Regions from separate parts of the Homo sapiens genome. Here region 2 is linked to region 1. The links come from fine-mapping of genetic effects on gene expression. A gene starts in region 1. The other region holds a variant in brackets. All regions are shown on one strand. Distances are from middle to middle. Region 1 holds the start of MKI67 (marker of proliferation Ki-67). Region 2 overlaps MKI67 (marker of proliferation Ki-67).

What was found. PIP is the estimated chance that this variant, and not a neighbour inherited with it, causes the effect.
Region 2: its variant is fine-mapped to the expression of MKI67 in whole blood (TOPMed, PIP above 0.99).

The regions. Positions count from the first base shown.
Region 1 is chr10:128,120,699-128,132,542 of GRCh38, reverse strand. MKI67 (marker of proliferation Ki-67) reads left to right here and starts at 6,120. Exons shown (of 15, transcript NM_002417.5): 1 at 6,120-6,444; 2 at 6,787-6,967; 3 at 9,374-9,452; 4 at 9,547-9,662. The coding sequence starts at 6,876. RefSeq lists an enhancer at 5,631-5,860 and a silencer at 5,971-6,340.
Region 2 is chr10:128,089,658-128,101,501 of GRCh38, reverse strand. It overlaps MKI67 (marker of proliferation Ki-67), which reads left to right. Exons shown (of 15, transcript NM_002417.5): 14 at 1-244; 15 at 2,247-4,843. The coding sequence ends at 2,312. Among named protein-coding and RNA genes, the nearest start is that of MKI67, 31 kb to the left of the region's middle. RefSeq lists enhancers at 9,114-9,613, 9,614-10,115. The variant A/G (reference allele first, on the strand shown) is at 5,853.

The DNA of each region.
Region 1 (11,844 bases):
ATTTTTTTGGTGTTAAAATAGAAACATGATGATACTAGCTGTTTTTCTAATACATGTTTACTTGACAACACTAAATATGAACAGCCCTCTGTGATTTTATAAAATGCAGGAGCATTTTCTTTTTATATTAAATCCAGAACTTTAGGACCCGAGATGTTTAGAAGAGAGCCCAAGGGCACTAGGATTCTAGAACCTGGAGAGGAGGCAGGACGTGAAAGCACCGATGGCCAAGTCCTATCCTCCCGCCAGAGCTCCACCTGGGGATTGGTTGGTAGATGACTGAGGTCAACTGCTTTCATTTGATTTATTTTCAAACAGGAAAGGGAAAGATGAGAAGATATATTGTGTATCTTCTCAATGAACTCTAAAAAAATTGAGTACGATATTCATGGAATCACCTTATTTCAGGACCAGCCCAGCAGAAATCTAGGCAGTGATCTGATGTTTATTCCCAATCGTTTGGTTTTTATATGTAGGGATTGGGATGGTCCTTTGCATTTATAGGCAATACGTTAATTCCTTTTCAAATATCTTCATTTAACACAGCTAACTGAAAGGCTCAACACTCCAGTGAAGAAGAAACCACAAATGATGAACAAATGTTTTGTCACTCTTTCAGATTCAGAAATTTTGCTTGAAAAAAGTCTGAAGAAACTAATTTAGGAAAGAAACCTCTGCCAATAACTCTAAAGAGTTTGAATTGGTTGCCTTTATTCCTAACACTATGATGTTTTGGGATAGGAACTAGTAGATGGTATTTTTTCTTTCCCATTGGCAGTATATCATTTACAACAGATGTTCCCGACTCAGGATAAAATGTAACTGGCAGCCAGAGTCACCCACCAGCCCCTGAGGAAAGGGCTCAACCTTGAGAACATCTGGCTGGCTTCAAGAAGGTCACACAAATACAAGATGATGCTGAGGATAAGACAAGTGGTTTTGAGAGAGGAAAACCTTTAAAAATATTTGGAAGAGTCCTGAAGACCAATAAAATAAAGACACTGCAATACTTCATGGACACCAGAGAGCAATTTAACACTGAAATGAAAGCAACATGTTGCACCTGAACACTGAAAAAAGCCCATGTGTTAAGAGGAAGAAGAAATATGCAATTCACTGCAATAAATATTGAACCTTTAAAAAACAGAAGGAACATGAAAACTAAAGGACACTGGGCCACAGCAAATAAGGTGGCGGCAGCCATCCCATAATGATTACATGATCTCCATGATTGTAAAATGTATATGCCACCTGAATTTATTCTTAGACCTTCTCTCAAAGATGTCTGCATTCAACACAGGCAATAACTGCAGGTAATAGTGAAGAATCCTTCAGGCATGATAGAGGAACAGACTAAGTGTGGGAAAAGGAAGAACTAGGCCGGGCGCGGTGGCTCACGCCTGTAATCCCAGCACTTTGGGAGGCCGAGGCGGGCGGATCACGAGGTCAGGAGATCGAGACCATCCCGGCTAAAACGGTGAAACCCCGTCTCTACTAAAAATACAAAAAATTAGCCGGGCGTAGTGGCGGGCGCCTGTAGTCCCAGCTACTTGGGAGGCTGAGGCAGGAGAATGGCGGGAACCCGGGAGGCGGAGCTTGCAGTGAGCCGAGATCCCGCCACTGCACTCCAGCCTGGGCGACAGAGCGAGACTCCGTCTCAAAAAAAAAAAAAAAAAAAAAGGAAGAACTAGTCAAAATTGCTAATAAGGCCGGGTGCGGTGGCTCATGTCTGTAATCCCAGCACTTTGGGAGGCTGAGGCAGGCCGATCACCTAAGGTCAGGATTTTGAGACCAGCCTGATCAATAGGATGAAACCCCATCTCTACCCAAAATACAAAAATTAGCTGGGCGTGGTGGCATATGCCTATAGTCCCAGTGACTCGGGAGGGTGAGGCAGGAGAATTGCTTGAACCCAGGAGGTGGAGGTTGCAGTGAGCCGAGATCATGCCCATTGCACTCCAGCCTAGGCAACAGAGCGAGACTCCATCTCAACAACAACAAACAACAACAATAACAGCAAAAACTGCTAATAAAAATTTTAACGAGAATATTTCAGGAAGTGAATGAGTTGTGTTCATCTTCAAATGTGTGAAAAATTATTCAGTGAAAAGATGGGCAGCTTAGTCTTATGTTGCTCTAGACACTATCATCAGGAGCATTGGGTACAAATAGGAAAACAATCAGAGCAGTACATACAGGGAATGTGTATTCTGCAGTCAACATAATTGTTGGAGTTGTTAGAGAGGTTACTAGTGTGTGGAGAGAAGTATGACGAAAGTCCAGTCATGAAGAGTTTTGTTTTGTTTTAGCAGAGATGACTAAGTGATAAGAAATTCATTTGATGCCTGTGTAATGGGGCATTTTGCTATAATGTAAGCTGTTATAATCAGACTTTTCTTGTTCATAGATTGGCAAAGCATCATATTGGATATCTTAGATTACTGACATCTTAAAAAATTAATCAGCCTAATATTTTTAAATGCATTTCTTTTTGAGTTTACTTTTAGTTGAATTTTGAGATTTGTTTCAATCATTATTGGAATTTTGTAGATGTCTTCTGATTTCCCTAGGGAATGCCTTTGTGTCCAAGAACAAGAAACATAACCAATAAAGAACAATACATCCGTAGTTTTCCTATATTAGTAGAAACTATTTAAAGGAGATGAAAATGGAAAGAAGATCATGAAAAAAATAAAACTCCAAAAATGGAGCTACAAAACCGACTTGTAGGTCCAAGATCAATGAAAGTAGAATACGGAAGTCTGGAAGGAACTATACATTGTCCCTGACTTACGTAACAGAGAAGAAAGTTGGGAAGAAAAGTGTGGGCAACCTCCCCACAAGAGACCAGATTAAAAGCCAGGAAGAAGTCTGGGCACGGTGGTTCACGCCTGTAAACCCAGCACTTTGGGAGGCCGAGGCGGACGGATTGCTTGAGGTCAGGCGTTCGAGACCAGCTGGCCAACATGTGAAAACCTGATTCTACTAAAATTACTATATATATATATATATATATAGTAATATATATACTAATTATATATAGTATATATACTCTATATATAATTGTTATATATAGTATATATACTATATATAATTACTATATATACAGTATACTATATATATACACACATACTATATACTATATATAGAGACAGTATACTATATATATACACACATATATATACATATATACATATATATAGCGACAGTATACTATATATATACACACACACACACACACACATACATATATATACACACACACATAATATATATATATATATAAACTGTGCGTGGTGGCTCACACCTGTAGTCCTAGCTACTCAGGGGGCCGAGGCAGGAGAATTGCTTGAACTCAGGAGCCAGAGGTTGCAGTGAGCCAAGACTGTGCCACTGCACTCCAGCCTGGGTGACAGAGTGAGACTCAGTCTCAAAAAAAAAAAAGTGAAACCCCATCTCCACTAAAAATACAAAAAAAAAAAATAGCTGGGCTTAGCAGCAGACACCTGTAATCCCAGCTACTTGGGAGGCTGAGGCAGGAGAATCGCTTGAACCTGGGAGGCGGAGGTTGCAGTAAGCAGAGATTGCACCACTGCACTCCAGCCCGGGGGACAGAGTGAGACTTCATCTCAAAAAAGAAAAACAACAACAGCAACAACAGAAAAGAAGTAACTCAAAATGTTTCAAAGAAGTAACTCAAAATGTTTTTCTTTCTTTCTTCCTTTTTCTTCTCTCTTTCTTTCTTTTTCTCCTCTCTTTTTCTTCTCTCTCTCTTTCTTTCTTTCTTTTTCTTTCTTTCTTTCCTTCGTTCTTTCTTTCTGTCTCTCTCTCTTTTCTATTTTTTTTTTTTGATGGAGTCTCGCTCTGTTGCCCAGGCTGAAGCGCAGTGGCGTGACCTTGGCTTACTGCAACCACTGCCTCCCGGGTTCAAGTGATTCTCCTGCCTCAGCCTTCCGAGTAGCTGGGACTACAGGCGTGTGCCACTACACCCGACTAATTTTTGTATTTTTAGTAGAGATGGGGTTTCACCATATTGGTCAGTCTGGTCTTGAATTCCTGACCTCATGATCCACCCACCTTGGCCTCCCAAAGTGCTGGGATTACAAGCATGAGCCCCTGCGCCTGGCCTAGCACCTTCTAGTTCTAATTAGGCTGCATCCATGAGGGTGGAAGAACTGTCTCTGGAAACAAGCAGTAATTAGGATGAGAAAAGTTGTGTTTTATGGGGTTATGCAGTGGTGGGCTTTGTTTGATCGTTTAATGGGGGAAAACATGGAAACTCATGCCCCCTAAAACGTTTATATAATAGTATCCCCGCACTGAATTTTTCTACGTCAGACTTGGCCCATACAATTTAGAGTTGCTGTCCTGTGCTTTTATGTTGCTTTCCCAGTTTCTCTATTTCCATCAGCAGCTGATATCTTTGTAGTTGCTCTAGAGCAGAGGGCTCAGTCTTTTCAATCTTGTGGTCCCTTTACACTCTTAAGAATTATTGAGAACCACCAGGAATTTTTGTTAATGTGGATGGGTTATATCTAGCTATATTTATATATTTTAAGTTAAGGCTAAGGAATTTAAAAATATTCATTTATTGATTCATTTTAAGATAGTGATGCACCTATTTCATGCTAACACCAATAACTTATTTTTATGGAAAAAAAACAACAAAATGAAAACAGCGCTTTAGTTCACATTTTTGCAAATCTCTGTAATACCTGGTTGAAACGGAGACAGTGGGAGTCTCCTCACTGCTTCTGCATTTGCAGAACCACACCCCACACTCTTGGGAGCATGAGAATGAGAAGGGCAAGTAACACAGAGGGTCATTAGATAAATGGTTTTGACCTTATGGACTCTCTGAAAGGAATAGGAAGTCCTCAGGGGTCCCCTGCATCGAGGCCTCCCTGATCAAGGGAGCCAAGCTCCAAGGGTTGCTGGGGAGCTGGAGGAGGTGAGATGGGGCAGAGAGGCCGTTGTCACCAAAAGCGTGTTTAGGCTCCATTCACTTCACCCCAGGTGGCCTACTGAGCCCACATGGCCACCAGCGCAACTGAAGCAGACCCCGATAGAATCCTGTGTAGAATTATTTTAGGATTCACCCATCTTGGCATGCACAAGCCATTTCAATTGAAGAATGTTTTCTAATAACAAAACATTGTAAACCTAAGTATGTGGCAATAGTAATGATTAAGTAAATTATGGTTTCCCGAAGCCCAGTGCTCTGCAGCCATCAGAGAGTAAAAGCGAGAATGTGTTCAGTGGAGATAGCCTCAGGATATTTAAAAGCAGAGAGCACAAAGTATAGAATCGTGTTGTGTATGTTATGACCTTTTTTTCTGTGCTTTTGAAAAAGAGAATACACGTATAGCAGGAAAAGACACACCAAACTACTTTATATAATTGGTTGTTTTTGTGTTTGGTAAGATGTATGCACTGAAGAGGAAGGTTTCGATTTTTTTTTTTTTTTTTTTTTTTTTTTTGAGACAGGGCTTTGCTCTGTCGCCCAGGCTGGAGTGCAGTGGCGCGATCTCAGCTCACTGCAGCCTCGACCGCCCCGGCTCAAGCGATCCTCCCACCTCAGCTGTCCCAGTAGCTAGAACTACAGGGGCGCCACCACGCCTGGCGAATTTTTTGTAGAGATGGGTTCTCTCCAGGTGGCCCAGGCTGGTTCTGAACTCCCGGGCTCAAGGGATCTTCCTGCTTCAGCTTCCCAAAGTGCGGGGATTACCGGCGTGAGCCACCGCGTCCCGCCTGTTTTTAATTTTTAGCAGTTTTAAATCTTCTGGCAATGAGTAATGTTATAGTGTCCCAGATGTTTGGTCCTTTAAGAAAAGGATAGCAGGACGGGTTATCTCGGTGGGAGCGTGTTCCACCTCTGCCCTCCGCCAGCCGCCCTCGCCGGGGATGCACCCAGGTATTTTCCTCCGGATGCGTGAGTGGCTCGCCCGCGGACACGCCAGCCCCGCCCCGCGAGCCCGGTTTCCCCGCCCCCTCCCCGCCCACGCCCTGCGCTCCCTTCCTATTGGTCCCATGCCGCGCTTTCCCGTTCAATCGCAGCGCTTAGCGCCAGAATTTGAATCTTCGTTTTCGTTTGAATTGGGCGGGCGCGCCGGGCTGGAAGAAGGAAGTGGAGGGCTGACGCTGCGGGCGGGCGGGCGGGCGGGAGGACTCGACTCGGTGGGAGCCGCTAGAGCCGGGCGCCCGGGGACGTAGCCTGTAGGGCCACCGGGTCCCCGTCAGAGGCGGCGGCGGGAGCAGCGGGGACTGCAGGCCGGGGTGCAGCGAACGCGACCCCGCGGGCTGCGGCCCGGTGTGTGCGGAGCGTGGCGGGCGCAGCTTACCGGGCGGAGGTGAGCGCGGCGCCGGCTCCTCCTGCGGCGGACTTTGGGTGCGACTTGACGAGCGGTGGTTCGACAAGTGGCCTTGCGGGCCGGATCGTCCCAGGTGAGCTGCGGCCGGGACTCCTGGGAGCTGTCCGGGGTCGAGGGCTGAGCCGCGGGGACCCCCCGAGCTCTGCGGGGACGGGCAGGGGACAGACGCGCGGCCTGGGCCCGACTCCTCCTGGGCTCTGGCGAGGGCGTCTCGGTGGAAGCTCCCAGGAGGCGCAGGCGCTGGCGACAACACCCCAGCTGCCGGACTTTGGGGCGCCGGGGGCTGCGGTCGGATCGTCCTGGGGTCCCCGCTAGCTAGCTGCGGTGTGCGCTTCTGTGGCCGGGGATAGGTGAATTGGGCACGGGGCCCTTCTTAGCTCCTTTGCTATCAGAGTAACTCGCACCTCTTTTGCAGTGGAAGAGTTGTAAATTTGCTTCTGGCCTTCCCCTACGGATTATACCTGGCCTTCCCCTACGGATTATACTCAACTTACTGTTTAGAAAATGTGGCCCACGAGACGCCTGGTTACTATCAAAAGGAGCGGGGTCGACGGTCCCCACTTTCCCCTGAGCCTCAGCACCTGCTTGTTTGGAAGGTGAGCCCCGCGGGCGCGCGCGGACGTTTTAGCTGAGAAAGAGGAAAATACCTTAGTCACAGAATAAAGTCCAGAAACGCGCTCTAGGATTGGGTCCTGCCGTCACTTTTCCTTGGTGCTTCTCCCATTCGTTACTAAGTTGACATAGTTGTGTTTTTTTGTTTTGTAAGTATAAATTTGATGCTAGTTTGTATGTTTAAGTGGTTTTAAAAATCAAGCCAATTAAAAAAATCGATTTGCTAATGTTGCGGTAAAGAAAGATGTAGATGATCTTCATATGTCACTGGCTGCAGGCAGGCGTCTGAAGACACTGTGCGCCCCCGGGTGCCTCCACAGTGGGCATCCCTGGCCACTGGGGACACAGAGAATGAAGGAAGGAAGCCATACACTTGTCTCTTGGCTCCTTGTGGCAATAGGAAAATGGGACAGAAAGTCTTCCTGCCTGGAATTCGAGAACGTTTCCTCTTATATTGCTGTCCTGTTTGGTGGTGGTAATAACCCTGTCCCTGTATAACAGGTATAGTTGCTGACAGTGCCCCATCAGCCTCTGACATGTGTCCCACTAGAGGCCTGAGAAGGGGGGTCATTTCCCGTGTGGTCATTTCCCAGACCACACGGGATTCAGGCCTCACCCTGTCCTCCCAACCCCATCCCGGCCTCACCCTGTCCTCCCAACCCCATCCCCTACCTTGTTCCTCCCGCCTAAGGCATTCCAAGCCTTTGTTCACCTTGGTACTTCTTACACACTTGGAAGTTTACAATGGGAAAGTTCTCCCCTTCCTCAAGCTTGTGTGATTTCCATCATTCAGGCATCAGGTGAAATGTCACCTCTGAGGAAGCCTTGCATGAAAACTTGTATTTCCAACCCCACAGCTTCAGGGGTGAGTTGTGGGTTTGTCTCCCACTAGGCTGAGCTCCCCAAAGGCAAAGACTGTCTTGTTACTAATCACGTGTGTAGGGCCAGGGATGGTGTCTGGCATAGGGGGTGTGATCAATACCTAGCATTCTGGCAAGGGTCAGTAGAAACATGGGCTGGAGCCATGGATTTGCAATCTCTTGAGAACAGTGGTTCTCACAGGAGGGTCATCTAACCTTCCAGGATTCATTTGAATTTCCATGTCACAATATAGGACAGGGGCATGCGCTGTCATCGCGGAGGAGAGGTCAGGGTGGGCATCCTACCAGGCTCAGGGCAGCCCCCACAATACAGAAGCATCTGGCCCAAGATGTCAACAGTGCCAAAGCTCAGAAACACCCATCTATAGTCGTCCTCCTGCCAAACAAATTCTCAGTTGTAAGGGATAGTCTTTCCTTTGCTCTGATGTCCTGTTACCTTAAAATCAAATTATTTTATTGGGGTTAAGGAAGCTTTTCACTTTCCATAGATACCTTTCTCTTGAAAAGGAAAAATATAAACATTTCATCTCCAGTGGCAGTCCTTTTGCTTTTTTATACAGTACTCCTTGAATATATCTTCATGCAAGATTTTATAATTTAGAAATAATTCCTAAGTGTTTGGTCACATGACCTGGGTAGGAAGAGAGATTCTTAGACTCCAAAGGTTCAGATGGAGAACAGACAGGCCATTGCATAGTTTATTCAAATTTTTAAGATCACAGGCTAGAACAGGAACACTGAAGACTCCAAGAACCTACTAACAAACTCTTCTGATTATTAGTTTGTATAGGTTTAGGAATTGTCTCTTCTGCTACTTTGCCATGGTGTTAGCTTTCTGTGGAAAAACAAGTTGAATTTAGATTTTTTTTTTGTGTCGCTTGCAAATTAGTATTTTTATTGTTTAGAGACTTGAATCTGTCAGTAAATTCAGTGTAGTTTTAAAACAACAATGAAAAGCTTACCCATAATGAGCATTTACTATGTGCTAGGCAAATTAGTGACATGTACAACCATTTAATTGAACATCACATGATGTAGGTTCTAATGTAATTTCTTTATTGTATATGAAGAAACTGATGCACAGAAGTGCTAGCATCAAATAAGCACATTTGGGGATGATTAAACCTCTAAACATATTTAACATTACAAACAAACGTTTTTGAAAAAGCACAGAGTATTAAAAATAGTCATTATCCAAAATTGATGTAAGTATTCCTTTGTGTCTTTTAAGTATAGCTTTTCATATAAAAGGTAATTCGATTTGTGTTCTAGTGTTTTCCCTTGTTTTTACATACTCTCTGTTTTAAAGATCTAATAGTTACATGTTTAATACTTCCAAAAGTTCTTTGCAAAATGCAAGATCGTTTACATTGCCCATTTTGTTTGTTACTCCTTTATGTCATATTTACAGATCAAACATTCTAGTCAAATTGTGTTTTATTTTGGGAAATTGAGGTAATCTTTTAAAAAGTTGCAGCAACCAAAAAAACCTTCTTCTTTTGCATGAAGGGGTATTGAATGTGACATCCGTATCCAGCTTCCTGTTGTGTCAAAACAACATTGCAAAATTGAAATCCATGAGCAGGAGGTGAGTGGGTTTTTTGAAGATCTACTTTTAAAGCTTTTTAGTTCACTTTTAATCTGTTCATTAGTTACATATTTCCCCTTCTTTTCACTTGCAGGCAATATTACATAATTTCAGTTCCACAAATCCAACACAAGTAAATGGGTCTGTTATTGATGAGCCTGTACGGCTAAAACATGGAGATGTAATAACTATTATTGATCGTTCCTTCAGGTAGGTAAAAGCTGATTGGTCTAACAGTAAATGTCATCTTCTGATTAACCATAAACTAGTGTCAAAGTCAACTGTCATTCTTCTTTAATGTTCATGGATGTCAAAGTATTTCAGGTTTTCATTCTCAACACTAATCTTAATTTAAAAGGATATGGATCTAGGAAGATGACTAATTGGGACAAAATGTGATGGAATTCAAGGATTTGGGTGCAAATAATTATGCAGAGGGAGGTTGACCTTGTCCTAAAGGAGTTTGTTATTTTCTTCCAAGTGTTTTGAAACTGCATGAGATTTTTCTATTCTTTTTTATTTTAAAGCAAAATATACACAGAGAAAAAGGTACAAAACAAGATGGACAGGTCAATTTATCATGTGAACACCCTTTTGATCACCACCTATTATGGACTGATTTGTGCTCTCCCGAAATTCATATTTTGAATTCCTAACCCCTCGTACCTTAGGATGTAACTGTATTTGGAAAGAGGGCATTTAAAAAGGCAATGAAGGCTTTTTGAGCTATTAGTATGGGCCCTAATCTGATGATTGGTGTCATTATAAGTGGAGATTAGGGAACACGTGCACAGAGGAAAGCCCATGAGAAGAGGCAGCAAGAAGGCAGCCATCTTCAAGTCAAGGAGAGAGGCACAGAGAAATCCAATCCAGCTGACACCTTGCTCTTGGACTTCCAGCCTCCAGCACTGAGAAGGGCATGTCTGTTTTTCAAGGCATTCAGTCTGTGGGACTTTATTATGGTGGCCCTAGCAGACTAATACATCCTCAGCTCATATAGAACATTTCCAGAAGCTTTTTAAAAATGCTGTTGTCTAATCACTACTTCATTCCCTCAGCAAGTAAACCACCGTTTTGGCTTTTAGGATATCATAAACGTCTCGAGTTTCACTACCTAAGCATGGATCTCTGAACACGATAGTTTTGTCTGTTCTTATAAAAGTCCTTAACAGTGATACAAGAATGTATACATTTGTGCCTGGCTTGTGCTTTTCTGTGTGTGAGATTCATAGCATGTTGGACATCTCTGTAGTTTGTTCCTTCTCATGGCATAAGTATTTCACTGAAAAAAAAATGTTTAATATATACAATAATATACATAACTATACAGAATTCATTCATTCTTGATGGACATTTGACTAATGTCTAGTCTTTGAAATGTGTCAAGGTTTGCTTTATGAGCAGATATGGCTAATTATCTTACTAATCTGCCTTGTGTAATTGAAAACTGTATTCTACAGTGTCTCATATATATGTAATATATAATTATTATATATATCACTTATATAATATATAATTATAATATATTATATATAATCATATATAATTATAATATAATATATAATATTATATAGTATATACTATATGTTATATAGTAATATATAATATAATAATATATATTATATATACCATATAGTATATACTGTATACAGTATATACTATATGGTATATATAATACATATACAATATATATACAATATATTTATATTATATAATATATAATATATACATATATAATATGTAATATATATACACATATACAGATACACACACTCCCGTTAGATTCAAATCTATAATCTTAGTAAATTTTCCCCTACTATTATTCTAAGAGATATGTTCAAATCACCTACTGAGGATTGATTGATTGATTTGTTTTTATCTCTATCAGTTTTTGCTTTGTATATTTTGAGGCTGTACTATGGTGTACAAACTTAGAATGATGTCTTGGTGCATGGAACTCTGTCATTTAGAGATGTCCTCTGTTTTTAGTAGTGCTTTCTTTTCTGCTTAATGTTTCCTTTGGATGATGAGTATGGTTAAACTAATTTCCTTTTGATGAGTGCTTGTGTAGTATAACTTTTCCACCCCCTTAATTTTAACTTTTCATAATTGTTATGGTTTAAGTTGTCTCTTGGAACCTGTTGTCAGGTGACCTCTTGTGTTTAACTGGAATATCTTCTTGCTGGATTGATCCTTATATAAAATGTCCTTTTTCTCTATGAATAACTTTTGTCTGAGATGATTTTGTCTCATGTTAGTACAGTACTCCAGTTCCCCTCTGCTTGCTGTTTGCATGGTATATCTTTTCCCATGCTTTTATTTTAAAAGATTGTGTCTTTGAATCAAAATTGCGTCTCTTGTAGACAACGTATTAGTTGGGTCATTTAAAAAT
Region 2 (11,844 bases), 31 kb after region 1:
GTGCTTGAGGTCTGCTAGACAGAATGAGAGCTCCCAGCCTAAGGTGGCAGAGGAGAGCGGAGGGCAGAAGAGTGCGAAGGTTCTCATGCAGAATCAGAAAGGGAAAGGAGAAGCAGGAAATTCAGACTCCATGTGCCTGAGATCAAGAAAGACAAAAAGCCAGCCTGCAGCAAGCACTTTGGAGAGCAAATCTGTGCAGAGAGTAACGCGGAGTGTCAAGAGGTGTGCAGAAAATCCAAAGAAGGTAAGCCATTTACTGTTTCCCTGTTTTAAAAGACACAGAATGTTTTGATGTATTTTTTGCCCAAGGTTGCAAAGGCAAACAAAAAGCATTATCTTCAACAGCACTCTGCCAGCTCCCAGTTACATTAATGGAAGGAGCATTATGCTAAGACATAAATTTGGTCATTTTAGTTATATTTTGTTGTGTCTACTTTGGGAATTTCACTTCAAATAGCAAATTCACGTTATGAAGACTTTCTTCAGAAAGAAAAGGAATTTGTCTAGTGGCTAATTTCTGACTGCTTATGATGTACCTCATGATACAATTGTAGGTAGATGTCTTCAGCCTTTCTGTAGTTCAAAATCACCTCTTGAAACAGGAAAATTCTTTTTCCAAAAAAAACTATTGAAACAGAAAAATTTCCAAGGCATTCTTTGGAAAGGCAGAAGGAACAGAAGTTGGGATGTCCCTGAGACACATGCTCACTATGTGAGAGTTCCTGGTCAGTGGGGGATGCGTCTGCCCTCCAACCCTCCTCCAGCCAGAGACTATCTAAGCTAATGAACTTTAAGTGCTACTGAAATCACATCAAGTTGAGCCACTCATAATTACAAGCATGTGGACAAATCCATAAGAATGATTAGATTCCATTAGTGTTCTTCTGGGGAATACTTGGTTTAGCTAAAATAAAAATAGGTTGAATTGCTCCCTTTTTGTGAGCAATTCACAAAAATATAATATAAATTTAATTCTTAGCACACACAAAATTTGGACCTAAAACTACCATATTCTGAGTTCAGCAAACGAAACTCATGTAGCAATAACCTCTTCAGATACAGAATTCTGGCAAGTACAGCTGTCCAGACAGACCCTCTTCGGCACAAACTAGGAAGCTTCAACTGCCAAGAAAAGGAAAGATTCCCAGGTGTCCCCAGTACCTGCTGCATAGCCAGGCAGCCAGTGGAGGGGGAGGGCTTGTGTGTCTGGATGGTGGGCAGGAAGTCCTAGTGGGGAGATGCCCATAGACTGTTCCAGAGAGGGAAGAGGAGAGGCTCAAGAAGGGCACTGATGCCCACACAGGTGTCCTAAGTCAGAGACTGTACTTCTGGGGCAGGCTGGAAGCAGAAGACACCCGACAGTGCCAGACAAGGTCCTAGAAACCACAGGCACACCAGGGACGCAACAGCTGACGTGGGTCAGCACGTTCACCCGTCGAGTCTTACAATAAAACGCAGGCTCCAGGCGCTTACCGAATTCACAGTCTGGAAGGTGCTGCTTCCTCAGAATGAAACCAAAGAAGGGTGAAAGCGAATCTTTTAACTAGGATGATTCCTAAACACAGAGCAACCAGGCCCAAGGCTGAGCCAGGCCTGGTGTGTTCTGCCGGGGGCGTTCCAGCCTCTTCTCACACACAAGCACCCAGGAGACGCCCAACACACACATGCTCCTCTTTGCCGAGCTCTTCGGTGGGTGTCGGTAGTCCTAGAAAATGCATATATAAGATAGATTTTTTCCAGTAAGAAGCTTGTAGCCATGCTTTTCACCATGGTTCCTCTCCCTTAGCCAAGGGGTGAGAACTACTGCAAGAGTAAAGGCCAAGGCAGGTCTCCTGCATGCAAGTTGGGCATGCTTCTGTCTACAGGGGTTCCTTGGTTTAGGAGACCCAAAAGACTTAATCCTGGTTGGATTCACTTTTTCTGAGTGACATTTTTTAGTTTGTGAAAATGTGTGCATCGATGAAGAAATTTTATTATGAATTAGCTTAAAAATGCATTAGGAACTTCTGTATGAAAAGATCACATTATTTAAGTGTAAAAAAACTGCATAATAAAAGCAGTTCAAGTCAAGAAAAACAATGTTAATGGAATATATTTTAAAACTTATTTCCAACCTCAAAATTAATTTTCTGCAACTAAGGACCTGCATAATACCTAGTAAGCCTTTGGGGTTTTGCAGAGGAGGTCGATTCTAAAAATGGGTGTTTAAATTACTTAAGAGTTCTATTTTTTTTCTTCCCACACAGGCTGAGGACAATGTGTGTGTCAAGAAAATAAGAACCAGAAGTCATAGGGACAGTGAAGATATTTGACAGAAAAATCGAACTGGGAAAAATATAATAAAGTTAGTTTTGTGATAAGTTCTAGTGCAGTTTTTGTCATAAATTACAAGTGAATTCTGTAAGTAAGGCTGTCAGTCTGCTTAAGGGAAGAAAACTTTGGATTTGCTGGGTCTGAATCGGCTTCATAAACTCCACTGGGAGCACTGCTGGGCTCCTGGACTGAGAATAGTTGAACACCGGGGGCTTTGTGAAGGAGTCTGGGCCAAGGTTTGCCCTCAGCTTTGCAGAATGAAGCCTTGAGGTCTGTCACCACCCACAGCCACCCTACAGCAGCCTTAACTGTGACACTTGCCACACTGTGTCGTCGTTTGTTTGCCTATGTCCTCCAGGGCACGGTGGCAGGAACAACTATCCTCGTCTGTCCCAACACTGAGCAGGCACTCGGTAAACACGAATGAATGGATGAGCGCACGGATGAATGGAGCTTACAAGATCTGTCTTTCCAATGGCCGGGGGCATTTGGTCCCCAAATTAAGGCTATTGGACATCTGCACAGGACAGTCCTATTTTTGATGTCCTTTCCTTTCTGAAAATAAAGTTTTGTGCTTTGGAGAATGACTCGTGAGCACATCTTTAGGGACCAAGAGTGACTTTCTGTAAGGAGTGACTCGTGGCTTGCCTTGGTCTCTTGGGAATACTTTTCTAACTAGGGTTGCTCTCACCTGAGACATTCTCCACCCGCGGAATCTCAGGGTCCCAGGCTGTGGGCCATCACGACCTCAAACTGGCTCCTAATCTCCAGCTTTCCTGTCATTGAAAGCTTCGGAAGTTTACTGGCTCTGCTCCCGCCTGTTTTCTTTCTGACTCTATCTGGCAGCCCGATGCCACCCAGTACAGGAAGTGACACCAGTACTCTGTAAAGCATCATCATCCTTGGAGAGACTGAGCACTCAGCACCTTCAGCCACGATTTCAGGATCGCTTCCTTGTGAGCCGCTGCCTCCGAAATCTCCTTTGAAGCCCAGACATCTTTCTCCAGCTTCAGACTTGTAGATATAACTCGTTCATCTTCATTTACTTTCCACTTTGCCCCCTGTCCTCTCTGTGTTCCCCAAATCAGAGAATAGCCCGCCATCCCCCAGGTCACCTGTCTGGATTCCTCCCCATTCACCCACCTTGCCAGGTGCAGGTGAGGATGGTGCACCAGACAGGGTAGCTGTCCCCCAAAATGTGCCCTGTGCGGGCAGTGCCCTGTCTCCACGTTTGTTTCCCCAGTGTCTGGCGGGGAGCCAGGTGACATCATAAATACTTGCTGAATGAATGCAGAAATCAGCGGTACTGACTTGTACTATATTGGCTGCCATGATAGGGTTCTCACAGCGTCATCCATGATCGTAAGGGAGAATGACATTCTGCTTGAGGGAGGGAATAGAAAGGGGCAGGGAGGGGACATCTGAGGGCTTCACAGGGCTGCAAAGGGTACAGGGATTGCACCAGGGCAGAACAGGGGAGGGTGTTCAAGGAAGAGTGGCTCTTAGCAGAGGCACTTTGGAAGGTGTGAGGCATAAATGCTTCCTTCTACGTAGGCCAACCTCAAAACTTTCAGTAGGAATGTTGCTATGATCAAGTTGTTCTAACACTTTAGACTTAGTAGTAATTATGAACCTCACATAGAAAAATTTCATCCAGCCATATGCCTGTGGAGTGGAATATTCTGTTTAGTAGAAAAATCCTTTAGAGTTCAGCTCTAACCAGAAATCTTGCTGAAGTATGTCAGCACCTTTTCTCACCCTGGTAAGTACAGTATTTCAAGAGCACGCTAAGGGTGGTTTTCATTTTACAGGGCTGTTGATGATGGGTTAAAAATGTTCATTTAAGGGCTACCCCCGTGTTTAATAGATGAACACCACTTCTACACAACCCTCCTTGGTACTGGGGGAGGGAGAGATCTGACAAATACTGCCCATTCCCCTAGGCTGACTGGATTTGAGAACAAATACCCACCCATTTCCACCATGGTATGGTAACTTCTCTGAGCTTCAGTTTCCAAGTGAATTTCCATGTAATAGGACATTCCCATTAAATACAAGCTGTTTTTACTTTTTCGCCTCCCAGGGCCTGTGGGATCTGGTCCCCCAGCCTCTCTTGGGCTTTCTTACACTAACTCTGTACCTACCATCTCCTGCCTCCCTTAGGCAGGCACCTCCAACCACCACACACTCCCTGCTGTTTTCCCTGCCTGGAACTTTCCCTCCTGCCCCACCAAGATCATTTCATCCAGTCCTGAGCTCAGCTTAAGGGAGGCTTCTTGCCTGTGGGTTCCCTCACCCCCATGCCTGTCCTCCAGGCTGGGGCAGGTTCTTAGTTTGCCTGGAATTGTTCTGTACCTCTTTGTAGCACGTAGTGTTGTGGAAACTAAGCCACTAATTGAGTTTCTGGCTCCCCTCCTGGGGTTGTAAGTTTTGTTCATTCATGAGGGCCGACTGCATTTCCTGGTTACTCTATCCCAGTGACCAGCCACAGGAGATGTCCAATAAAGTATGTGATGAAATGGTCTTAAAACCCATGGTATTTTTATTATAGGGAGAGTGGGGAAAGAAACTAAGTGTGGGTGGGGCAGACAGGCCAGTGTAAGAGAGACTGGTTCATTACGTTCCATTTTCATTTCTACAAGGACTTGGCTGGATGGTCATTTTCTCTCTTGGCCAATAAGTCATCGCAGCTGCTTTTAGTCCTGCAGGAATGGCCTGCTGTATCTCGAGAACTACCTGCAACCGCAGCTGTGCCTGCTTTGTTGCAACAGAGGTGCTGAGTTGAGGGATGGGGATTTGACCCAGGGCTGCCCCAAGTCAGCAGATGAAAATACATGCCCTGACTTTCCTCTGGCAACCCTGATTTGACATGGATCCCGGGAGTGAATTTGCTGGCAAGTTCCAGGGGCAGTAGCCTGCGGTAGGTCAGTTAGTCCTGAAGAAGAGGCCTTTCTGTCGGAGAGAAAAGTTTGCAGGTGGGTGCATCTACCATCTTGAGAGGCTGAGGAGGGAGGGAGAGCCGTGCTCGGTGGTCAGTCTGGTGAAGGAAGTGGGTTCAGTCTGCAGCCCACATCCTGGGCTGTCATCAAGAATTAACATGGCAAACGGCGACTCCATAAAGTAAACTGTAGCTACTTAACTAAATGATTTCGTGTGGCTGAGATCCTACTGTTTGCTGGGTTTCCTGGAAAAGTCCTCTAGATGAACTGCAGGAATCTCCTGGCACTCTGGTTACAGCTGGAGAAACTGATTTCTGTGCTGTCCAGGTGCTCCCAGACCCCCAAGGCATCTCCAGGACACAGTCACCAAACCCCCATCCTGGTATTACTGGCATTGAGTGCCACGTAGGCACACAGCACTCCATAATTTGGAAATGTGGATTTCATTGCTATTGCTCTTCATGAGGGAACAAATAATACCCATGATGTATTGGCAGGAAGCCACGCCCCCCCTCCCCCGCTGCCACCCCCACAGCGCGCACAGTGATTTCAGGAAGGAGGTTTGATTGGTTTGTTGTGTGTTGCCCTGCAAGGGCCCCA[A/G]TCAGCTTCCTGCTCATCAGCCCCATCTCAGGCAAGTCCCACATCTGTGATGTCAAGCCCTGAGCCGGGTAATTGGACTTGGATACCTGCTTGACTCATCTTTCCAGTGAGGTTCCTAAGGAGCATCCCCAACCCCACCTCCCAGGGGGAGCTCTCGATGTCACCTGAAGAACAAACAAACAAAAACTGTGTTGATGGTACAGTCCCAGGGCTCCGTGACTGGACAGGCTCCCTGCGTGATACACCTGTGTATGTCACTACAGAAATACAGCTGGTGCAGGCCTGTCCGCCTCTCTCACAGGTCAGAGTGTTCTAAAATCCATCCTGGCCCTTGTTGTCTGTCTGCTTGGGGTTAGGGCAGGTGCTCCTTTATCATTTGTAAAGTTTATGTGATGTCTGGTATGTGTTCCACACCCTTGCAGAGTGTAAATTCCTAGAGAGAGTTCAGACTTCGGAGTCAAATGCACAGGTGCAAATTCCAGCTTGTCTAATTTGCTGCTGTGTGAACGTGGACAGTCTTTCAACTTTGCTAGTTTCCCATCTGTAAAATGAGGCTGTTCAGTACCTGAGCACATAGCATTGTTGAGAAGATTAAATGAGACAATATGTGTAAAACACTTAGCATTTTACCCAGAGCTTGGTAAGCATCAATACATGCTAATTATCATCATCATCAGAAGATGAATATATTTATTAGATGCCTAAAACTCCAAGATATTTCCCTTGGCTCATAAATTCTTTATCACTAGGGATTTCTCTATGGAAGTGAAGGAAGAATCTGGAACGTAACAGGCCTGAATAACCAGGGGCAGTGGCTCACACCTGTAATCCCAGCACATTGGGAGGCCAAGGCTGGAGGATCGCTTGAGGCCAGGAGTTCAAGATCAGCCTGGGCAACATAGCGAGACCCCATCTCTACAAAAAAAAAAAAAAAAGAAAAAAGAAAAGAAAAAATTAGCGGGCATTGTGGCACATACCTGTAGTCCCAGCTACTTGGGAGGCTGATGTGGGAGGACTGCTTGAGCTCAGGAGTTCAAGGCTGCAGTGAGCTATGATTGTATCACTGCACTCCAGCTTGGTCAACAGAGCAAGACCCTGTCTCAAAAAAGAAAAATAAAAATCCTGAATAATATGTCTATGTCTTCATCGAGCCCACGTATTGAAAACTACCCAAACCACCAACAATGCAAAGAAACATTATTTAACTAAGAGTCGAGTAACCAAATTTCAGGGTTATCCAAACTGAATATGGCCTCTGCAGGAGAAAAGAATATGTGTGATGTGGCAGCCACAATCTGATACCATATTAACACTGTCTTTTATTTTTTTTTTTTTGAGACGGTCTCACTCTGTTGCACAGGTTGGAGTGTAGTGGCACAATCTTGGCTCACTGCAACCTCTGCCTTCAAGGTTCAAGAGATTCTCCTGCCTCAGCCTCTGAGGAGCTGGGATTACAGGCATGCACCACACATACCTGGCTAATATTTGTAATTTTTTTTTTAGGAGAGACAGGGTTTCACCATGTTGGCCAGGCTGGTCTCAAACTCCAGACCTCAGGTGATCCAGCCACCTTGGCCTCCCAAAGTGTTGAGATTACAGGCGTGAGCCACCATGCCCAGTCAACAGTGTCTTTAAATGACATCAGATCGCAGAACTTTGCTGAGCTTGGCCCAGACACAGGTCTGGCTAAAACAGGTGGTGCTGGGACCAGGCATGGCCAGGACATAGGGAAGCACATCCCTGCATAGAAAAGGTTCTGTGGATTTTAATCCAGGTCAGCAATTAGCAAACTTTTTCTGTCAAGGACCAGGCAGTAAATATGGCGGCTTCGTGGGCCATACTGTCTGTTATGCTGACTCACCTCTGCTGTTAAAGAACAGAAGCGGCTGTAGGCAACACGCAAGCAAACAGGCATGTCCAAAAAATGGCTAATAAAAACAGGCTGTGGGGCTGGGCACGGTGGCTCACGCCTGTAATCCCAGCACTTTGGGAGGCTGAGGCGGGTGGATCACTTGAGGCCAGGAGTTCGAGACCAGCCTGGTCAACATGGCGAAACCCAGTTTCTACTAAAAATACAAAAATTAGCCAGGTGTGGTGGTGGGCCCCTGAAATCCCAGCTACTCAGAAGACTGAGGCAGGAGAATTGCTTGAACCAGGGAGGCGGAGGGTGCAGTCAGCTGAGATCCAGCCCACTGTACTCCAGCCTGGGTGACAGAGTGAGATTCCATCTTAAGCAAAACAAAACAAAACAAAACAAGCAAGAAAACAACAACAACAACAAAAACCAGGCTGTGGGCCCATTTTGACTGAGGACCTTGGTTTGCATATCCCTGATCTAGAGAAATGAGTGATTTAACATATATGCCTCCTAGGACATATCACATTGAAATTAGCAGCCCTTGCAATATAACGGGTCATGAGCAGAGGGTGCATTTCACTTTGGGCTTTGGGGTCTTCCCGGGCCCTGGAACCCCCACCGGCTCCCAGCCCCAGGACGTTGGAAGCTGAGAGGCCTGGCTTCCAATCCCAGCCCTGTCCCTTGCTCGCTGCATGACTTGGGCCCATTGCTTGGCCTTTCTGAGCCTCAGTTTCCCTAGCTGGGAGAGTGAAGATGGCAATTTCTTGCCTCGTAGGGTTGTGAGGACAAAAGAAGAAAACTCGGGTGGATTGTGTAGCCTGGCCCCCATTCTCAGAAGGTCTCCAAGCGGTGCCGTCTTCCTCTTATCCCAGCGTGGCCTCAGCCTTCGAGAGGCCTAGAACTCTGGGAAAGGAGCAGTCAGGACTGGACACGACTCCAGGCTTTTCTTATTTCTTGTGTGGGGTCTGGAAAAGGAGAAGTGCAATTATATCCAAGGCCCCTCTTGGGCAGGGGTCTCAGATCCAGGCCAGGCTGATATGAGCAAGGGGAGGCGGGTCAGGCCAGGCAGCACTGTCAATTTTGATGTTGGGAGGGAGGAGGGGCATGACTGTGTATCAGCAAATTCCTAAATTTCCACCCTGGCTCGGGAGATGCAGCTTGTGCTGAAGTGAGTCACTTATTCCTGGGCCCCTCATCTGCCTGCTTGCTTCCATGTCCCCTAGAGCCAAAAACAACTATAGGAGCAACTTAGGGGAAAAGTTACCTATATTTATATATAAGCGTATGTATTTATATATAAATATGATAACTATAGATATAATCTAATATATTGTGTATAATATAAATTAAATATATTTAATGTAATGTATATAACTTAAGTATATTATATATTCATAACTATATAAAATATATAAATATACTAAATATTATTCACTAGGTTTTCATCATTGGCAACCTAAGTTCTATATAAATATATAAATATTATCTATGAAAATTTATACACAAATATGTATATAAAATGTTATAAATATATACATACATATTTAAGTAAAAATAATATATACATAAAATATATTATATGTTTATATAGATTTAGGTTGGCAATGATAAAAACTTAATGAAGAATTTTTAGTGTAATAAAAACTAGTCTCGTGGTAGCTCTTTGTGTTTCAGAATCCAGCTATTTGGCTCTGGGCCCGCCCTCTGTTACTCCGAGAAAGCACTGCTTTGGAGGTAACACAACGCTAGGTGGCCCCTGAGGCTCCCTGAGCACCGTCCGATACCCCTCTCAGAAGCACCTCTGCCCCCTCCTCTGTACAGCCCGCTTTGCTCGCCTGCCTCTTCCTTTGGATTCCAGGTTGGTCGGGGAAGCAATGGGCCATGTGTGTGCACCGTCTGTGCCTGCCTTCACCCACACGAGCCTGTTGGAAGACGACAGCCATATGGAAGACCGCTGAGCTACCCCGGCCCCCCAGCCCAGGCTAGTTGGGGTTACCCAACTACCAGCCAATCCCCAGACGTGAATGTGAATAAGCCCAGCCAGCATCACAGAGCTGCCTCGTCAATGTCTAGCTGACCCCAGATGCCACCTAAACAATTTGGGTTTCTCACGGCAGTTCTCTTCCCAACCTCTGTTCCCCTGGGTTCCTAAGAACTAAGGGTTGTGCCCACCAATCAAAGCAAGAGGGAAACGGGCCTTGGATTTTAAGGCGTTGCACTGCTGTGACTTGAAAAGGGATATGGTTTAAAATCATTCATTTAGGCCGGGCATGGTGGCTCACGCCTGTAATCCCAGCACTTTGGGAGGCCGAGGCAGGTGGATCATGAGGTCAAGAGATCGAGACCATCCTGGCCAACATGGTGAAACCCTGTCTCTACTAAAAATACGAAAATTAGCTGGGTGTGGTGGCTGGTGCCTGTAGTCCCGGCTACTCAGGAGGCTGAGGCAGGAGAATCGCTTGAACCCGGGAGGCGGAGGTTGCAGTGAGCCGAGATCGTGCCATTGCACTCCAGCCTGGCGACTGAGCGAGACTCCATCTCAATAAATAAATAAACAAACAAATAAGTAAATGATTAAAAATCAGTCACTTAAAGACATATTCTAAGATGAGACCCTCTTGCTCTATAAAACTGAAGGTCGTGTCCACTAAGAAGAGTGGATCTGACCTCAGCCCTGCACTGTGACGCCACATTCCATTAGGGCAGAGGAACAGCATCTGGCAAGAGAGGTCGTCCCAGAATTCTAAAGAGGCAGGATGGCCCTAGTATTCAAACTTGGACCACACAGATCTGCACGTCTCTCATCCCAGAAAGGAGAACCCAAAGTATGTGTCTCGGTTCATGATTCTGAGGATGAGGGAATTATGGAAGGCACCAAGTCCATTCATAAAACACACCACCCCCTCCCTGTCCCGGTTAATGACAGTGGGTGGTGGCTTGAGCATCAAAGTGGCCCATGATGTCTTGGTTTTGCTATCTGGTTATGCCATCTGGCTTTCTTGGTCTTCGTCCATTCATTTCCCTGGAGTCCTGGCCATGCTTTGCTTCTTACTAACCTTATGCAGAAGCCAAGGCAAGCGAGGACGAGGCATACTTGGAGTATTCCCACTGGAGTAACTTCTGCAACTAGAAGCTTTAGAGCTGTGACTGCCATACAGAGCCAAAGAAATGTAAGGTGCAGGGCGAGTGAGGGTCTTGGGAATTGCTGGAGATAATGGTGCTCTGTGCTTGCGGCGAGAGCAGTGAAGTGGTGAGACCAGTTTCTGAATGTAAACTTTTTATGACAACGGCTGCGAAGATGCCCAAAGTGGGCCCCTGTTGCCTATCATTGAGGTTTTGAGGCCACTTTTTAGGGAGTAATGCTAGGCGATACAGCCCCTCCCTAACCAGGCTTGCAATGGATTGCATGCCTGTTACATTTTGAGTGCCCAGGTTTCTGGTGGATTCTATTTGCCAGTCACTGTTGGTTTCAAATGTGAAGCATCTTTGCTATAAATAGACTCTACTGAGAGCTGCATGATTTGAAGAAACATTATACCTGTAATTACATTATTTTACTTGAAATATTAGTAAACACAACATGAACTATGTCTATTTGAATCAGTGTGGTACAGTTTGTACGTTCAAAACCTGAGCCTTAATACATAAAGTTAACTTCATTTATAAAATGCTCAAAAATAGGCAAAAATAAACTGCTGTTTAGAGATGCAAATATAGGTGGTAAAACTATTAAAAATCAAGGTTCTGTTTATAATTACAAAATGCAAGATATTGGCTATCAACAGAATAGAAACGTAGAGGATGTGTATATCCCATGGGCAGTGCTGACCTCCTTGGGGGCAGGGAGTGGGTGTCCTCCAACATATTTATGTGTCCTCAGAGCTTCCCCAGTGCTGAGCCTTTTCCTTAACAGGTGGATGGGTACGTGGCAGTTTTGTGCTGATTCGTTTTGAATGCATACTGGCTACATGTGTAAGCTTTCCTAAGACAAGTGACCACAGCACTGAGAGGGTATTACTGACCTCTTCTAGCAAGAACCACACAAAACAGACTCCTGACAGTGGGGTGGGACTGGGGTCCCTTTAACTGGAACAATCACCTGCAGCCCTTTTTCTTGCACTACAAAACTCCGTG